Regions from separate parts of the Homo sapiens genome. Here region 2 is reported to be linked to region 1. The links are microRNA targets in miRTarBase. Many come from high-throughput screens and were not tested one by one. Region 1 holds a microRNA gene; the other region holds the end of a gene's coding sequence.
Evidence for each region. Region 1 holds the annotated microRNA hsa-miR-4747-3p (AAGGCCCGGGCUUUCCUCCCAG, at 1,600-1,621, opposite strand). A microRNA usually pairs through its seed, bases 2 to 8, with sites in the 3' UTR of a target mRNA and lowers its output. Matches are read on the target gene's strand: a 7mer-m8 pairs with bases 2 to 8, a 7mer-A1 pairs with bases 2 to 7 and ends in A, and an 8mer does both.

Region 2: the mRNA of MFAP5 is a reported target of hsa-miR-4747-3p. Seed matches in the 3' UTR shown: 7mer-A1 at 1,752-1,758.

What each region holds. Positions count from the first base shown.
Region 1 is chr19:4,931,340-4,934,339 of GRCh38, reverse strand. MIR4747 (microRNA 4747) reads right to left here and starts at 1,653; the gene lies at 1,600-1,653. UHRF1 (ubiquitin like with PHD and ring finger domains 1) reads right to left here. Exons shown (of 17, transcript NM_001048201.3): 5 at 1,384-1,599.
Region 2 is chr12:8,645,398-8,648,397 of GRCh38, forward strand. MFAP5 (microfibril associated protein 5) reads right to left here. Exons shown (of 10, transcript NM_003480.4): 10 at 546-2,806. The coding sequence ends at 2,694. Among named protein-coding and RNA genes, the nearest start is that of MFAP5, 16 kb to the right of the region's middle. RefSeq lists an enhancer at 2,480-3,000.

The DNA of each region.
Region 1 (3,000 bases):
ATTTTTGGCCGGGCGCAGTGGCTCATGCCTGTAATCCCAGCACTGTGGGAGGCTGAGGCGGGCGAATCACTTGAGGTCAGGAGTTCGAGACCAGCCTGGCCAACATGGTGAAACCCAGACTCTACTAAATATATATATATATACAAAAATTAGCCAGACGTGGTGGCGGGCGCCTGTAATCCCAACTACTTGGGAGGCTGAGGCAGGAGAATCACCTGAACCTGGAAGGCGGAGGCTGCAGTGAGCCAAGATCATGCCACTATACCCCAGCCTGGGCGACAGAGGGAGACTCTGTCTTTTAAAAAAAAAAAAAAGGTAAATTTTCTGTTACATACATTTTATCACACACACACACACACACACACACGCACACACACACACAAAGAGGCAAGGGAGAAAGAACAGGCTTTGCAAAATGATTCTGCAAATGGCCAAATAGGAAGGATTTTCAGCTTTGTAGGCCGCATAGTCTCTGTTGCAACTACACAACTCTGCTCTTATAACACAAAAGCAACCACAGGTAATAAGATAAAAATGGGTGTGACCACGTCCCAATAAAACTATTAGTCAAAGCCGGCAGCGGACCACAGCAGGCCTGTGGACTGCAGTTTGCCAACTCCTAAGCGGTGTGGTTTGGCGTGTATGTTTATGAACAGAATGTCCCTGGAAAGTTGGTAACAGTGATGTCGCCAAAAAGGGGAACTGGGTGACCAGGCAGAGGAGGGAGAACCTTCATGTGTGGTCTTGGGTGCTTTCTATTTTGACCCTGTGAATGGGACCTATTCACCAAATTTGAAACAAACAAGAGAGAAAAAGAAAGCTTGAGGCCAGGCACGGTGGCTCACTGCCTGCAATCCCAGCACTTTGGGAGGCCGAGGCAGGCAGATCACGAGGTCAGGAGATCGAGACCATCCTGGTTAACGGTGAAACCCCGTCTCTACTAAAAATACAAAAAAATTAGCCAGGTGTGGTGGTAGACGCCTGTAGTCCCAGCTACTCGGGAGGCTGAGGCAGGAGAATGGCATGAACCCAGGAGGCAGAGCTTGCAGTGAACCGAGATCGAACCACTGCACTCCAGCCTGGGCAACAGAGCGATAAAAAAAACACCATGAGAAAAAGGAAGTTTGACAACTCTGCCTGTCAGGGCCTGGGGGTCAGAGACAGTTCCCTGGGCAGAGGCACTCAGGGGCACAAGGTGGTCGGTCTTAGAAAGATGCTCAGCAGTGAGCAGGAACAGACCCCAGAGGGGAGGCAGGAAGGCCAGGCCGGAGGCTAAGGGCCTCGCACACACAGCGCTGGCTGGACGGCTTCAAAGCCAGTCCGGGGGCCCCGGGAGGGGAGGAAAGGAGAGAGGAAGGGCTCGCCCCAGGACGCGAGGCTCACCCCAGCACCACGTTGGCGTAGAGTTCCCGCGCCGTCCTGGTCTCGCGCTTCCTGGAGATCTCCGCGTCGTACCAGAAGCCCCGCTCCTTGGGGTTGTCGGGGTTGTAGTTGAGCATGACCACCTGGCCCACCTCCAGGTCCTGCCACTTGATGATGGTGCGGGCGCGCGCTCGGACGTCCCTGGAGTTCATCTGGACCACGCCGTTCTCCGGGTAGCTGGGAGGAAAGCCCGGGCCTTAGACCCCGTGCTAAGACCAAGCCTCCTTCCCTCAATGGGAAACGAGCCGAGGTGGGACGGCCCCTCCCGACAGTGTGCAGAGGCCCCTCCCAACAGGCTTATATGCTGGTGTTGAGAACACACAGGTATATTAAGGCACATTCCAGGTACAAAATTGTTATGGGTTGCCCGTGTCCCCTGCAAAAAGAGATGTTCAAAGGCTGATCCCCAGTACCCACGAATAGGATTGTTTTTGGAAACAGGGTCTTTGTAGATAGAACCTTTGCAGATGAAATCATATTAAGATGAGATCACACTGCAGTAGGGTGGGCCCCAATCCAACAGGACTGGTGTCTTTAGAACAAGAGGAGAGGCCGGGCAAGGTGGCCCACGCCTGTAATCCCAGCACTTTGGGAGGCCGAAGCGGGAAGATCACCTGAGGTCAGGAGTTCAAGACCAGCCTGACCAACACGGTGAAACCCTGCCTCTACTAAAAATACAAAAATTAGCCAGGCATGGCCGGGCACGGTGGCTCATGCCTGTAATCCCAGCACTTTGGGAGGCTGAGGCAGGCAGATCATCTGAGGTCGGAAGTTGGAGACCAGCCAACATGGAGAAACCCCATCTCTACTAAAAATACAAAATTAGCCAGGCGTGGTGGCGCATGCCTGTAATCCCAGCTACTCGGGAGGCTGAGGCAGAATTGCTTGAACCCGGGAGGCAGAGGTTGCGGTGAGCCGAGATCGCGCCATTGACGCCAGCCTGGGCAACAAGAGTGAAACTCTGTCTCAAAAACAAAACAAAAACAAAAATTAGCTGGGCGCAGTGGTGCACGCCTGTAGTCCCAGCCACTTGGGAGGCTGAGGCAGGAGAATCGTTTGAACCCGGGAGATGGAGGGTGCAATGAGCCAAGATCACACCATTGCACTCCAGCCTGGGGGACAGAGTGAAACTGTCTCAAAAAAATAAAATAAGCTGGGCACAGTGGCTCACACCTGTAATCCCAACACTCTGGGAGGCTGAGGCGGGCGGAACACGAGGTCAGAAGTTTGAGACCAGCCTCACCTACATAGTGAAACCCCATCTCTTCTGAAAATACAAAAATTAGCCAGGCGTGGTGGCCACACACCTGTAATCCCAGCTACTTGGGAGGCTGAGGCAGGAGAATCGCTTGAACCTGGGAGGCGGAGGTTGCAGTGAGCTGAGACCACGCCATTGCACTCTAGCCTGAGTGACAGAGTAAGACTCTGTCTCGAAAAAATAAAATAAAAATAAAATAAAATAAAAATACAAACATTAGCTGGGTGTGGTGGCGGGCACCTGTAGTCCCAGCTACTCAGGAGGCTGAGGCAGGAGAATCGCTTGAATCCAGGAGGCAGAGGTTGCAGTGAGCAAGTCAA
Region 2 (3,000 bases), not on the chromosome of region 1:
TCAATATCTACTGATATTTTTACCAAATTCTTTAATTCTAACATTAAAGATCCATTATTTTGGTTTAAAAAATGGCTTTTCATTGAAAGCCATTGCTTAGCAAGGTTGTCATTTGGGCTCACCAGGAAAAAAAATATATTAACACCTTAATGAGTAAAAACTTTCTTCTGAATCTTCTTTTATTTTTTGAGACGGAATTTCACTGTTGTTGCCCAGGCTGGAGTGCAGTGGCATGATCTTGGCTCATTGCAACCTCCACCTCCCTGATTCAAGCGATTCTCTTGCCTCAGCCTCCCGAGTAGCTGGGATTACAGGCACCCGCCACCATGCCTGGGTAATTTTTTTGTATCTTTCTTAGAGACAGGGTTTTATCATGTTGGCCAGGCTGGTCTCAAACTCCTGACCTCAGGTGATCCGCCCACCTCAGCCTCCAAAAGTGCTGGGATTACAGGCGTGAGCCACCACGCCCGGCTGATACACATTTTTTAAAGTGGAATAAAAGTTCATAAATTCAGGCCTTTTTCGTAAACATAGAAGAGAAAAAGAACCAGAACAAAAGACATTTTATTTTGAGAAATAAATTGGAAAAAAATATTTTAAAATGTTTAATTTGCAATATACATAATACTGGAATTGAAATGCTGTCTGATGGAAATGTTGCAATGTGGAGTAGGAGGGTCAAGTTCGTGAAGATATTCTTAAAATTAATCTTGGAAACTCTGTGCCTATGAGGTTTCTCTAAAGTGGCTAAAATATGCATTTAATATGTTGTCTAAATGAGTACATTTAATTCTAGAGACTGTAAGGAGTAGAGATTATATGCTTTGGGGCTTTTTGTAGCATTTTTTTAAAATCAGTTGTACAGATCCCATTAAACGAAATTGTTTCTTAACAGCAAGAATCTGATCATTTAACTAGTTTTCTCAGCAATATAAAAGGAATACAACCTCCACTGTCATATATAACTTGTTGTCTCCTAGCTCCTATTTGAATTCCATTGGCTTTTATAGAAAGTTATTGAGTTAGTCAGACAGAAGGATTCATGATATATAATTTGTCATTTGTTATAATGGGATTTTCTTCTATTCCATTGTGGACTGCTACCCTCACCTAGGATAAAGCAGATATGGTTGCTATGAATTAGACTGTATCTAAGCTTCAAGAAATATGAATAATGCATTTAAATCCAGAGAATCATAGAATTAAAGGAAATCTTAGAACTAAGAATATATATAATATATATATATATTTCTTAAGATGGACTTTTGCTTTTGTCACCCAGGCTGGAGTGCAATGGCGCCATCTCGGCTCACTGCAACCTCTGCCTCCCAGGTTCAATTGATTCTCCTGCCTCAGCCTCCCGAGTAGCTGGGATTACAGGCACGTGCCACCACGCCCAGCTAATTTTTGTATTTTTAGTAGAGATGGGGTTTCACCATGTTGGCCAGGCTCGTCTCAAATTTCTGACCTCAAGTGATCCACCCGCCTCAGCTTCCCAAAGTGCTCAGATTACAGGCATGAGCCACTGCGCCCAGCAGTACTAAGATAAATTTAACCTTCTCATTTTAAAGATGAGGAAATTAAACCAGGACCTAATGAAGGAAAATGGCTTATCCAAGGCTACGTGGTTACTGCTAGAGCCAGGATAAGAATGTGGGTTGTCTGAATATTGTGTTTCTTTCACTCTTTCGTATTAACTATTAGGCAAACTTTCTGTCTGCCTATTAAAATTCAAGTCTGAATGCCCTTCTTAGGCCCCAATCAGGATATCCAAAAGCCACTTGCACAATAATTCGACCGTGCACTTGTTAAGTTGTGAAGATGAACGAAGTAGCAACTCAAGGAAACGTCAACCAATGGTATGATTTCACATTAAGTTGTCTAATTTGCTTTGTGGTGGTGGGTTCATCCCGGTACTACCCATAAACGAATCAGTAAATGAGACTTAGTTTCCAACCTTACTTCCCGACTAGACAACTGCATGAAAAATTGGATAGCGAATTATGAGTCCAAGTTCTATAGCTGGCATAGTCCTCATGCTTTAGCCCCAGCCTCTGAGCTTAGCAGAAGACATTTTGGGTCCTTATATATTGCTAGTAGGATTGTATAATTCTTGACTGTGTTGCAGAATCTTACAGGACTACAAAACTTACCATGATGTGTCTTATAAGGAAGACTTGCCAGGCAAATTTTCGGGCAAGCCAGCAAAATAGTTAAAGTAAGAGTAAAGAGGAACACGTGAATGATGGGGAGTTGGTCTAGGAAAATATTGTGAGGAAAATAAATGAAATTCTATGGTTAGCCCAAATAGACAAAGATAGCTTCTTCAACCCTAAGATCTATATCAGACAGATTCAATAGTAAAGATTATTAGCCTAAAGTTTAGTCTCCCTTGAAATTGTACATAGAATGTTTGTATATAAGCCATATAGTCATCATCTATTCACTGTGTCTATGATATTGAGAAGCAGCAAAATTATGCAATAATATAGACTTTGTATTTTAAGTGCTAGAAAATGAGATAAATGTTATCAGTTTGGGTGAAAAAGTAGAGAGTAGGGGTAAAAGCTGGACATTGCAAAAGGATTGGTTTAAGAAATACTGTCTAAGGGTTAGCTGTCAATGGTTGGAGAAGAAGGAGATCCTCCTTCCTCTCACCCATACATTTTTTCTTCTTTCCTCTTTTTCAATGATCACAGACCATTGGGTCTCTGCAAATCCACATTTTCACAGGGAGGAAGTCGGAAGTAATTGGAGCGACGGAGTCTCCTAGGGGGCAGACCAGCCATCTGACGGCAAAGCTCATCTAGAAGAGAAGCAGAACATCATGGGAAGAGAATGCAGAAGATAACAAAGGCTCTTGTTTTAAGGGATAGAGAAGACTTTTCAGTGTGGTGTAGTGAAAAGGTTGGAGAGAAAAAGATCCGGGTTTTAACCAGCTCTGCCACTTACTTTAGTTATTTGCCACTTCCTAGAAAGTTTCTTAAATTTTATAAACCT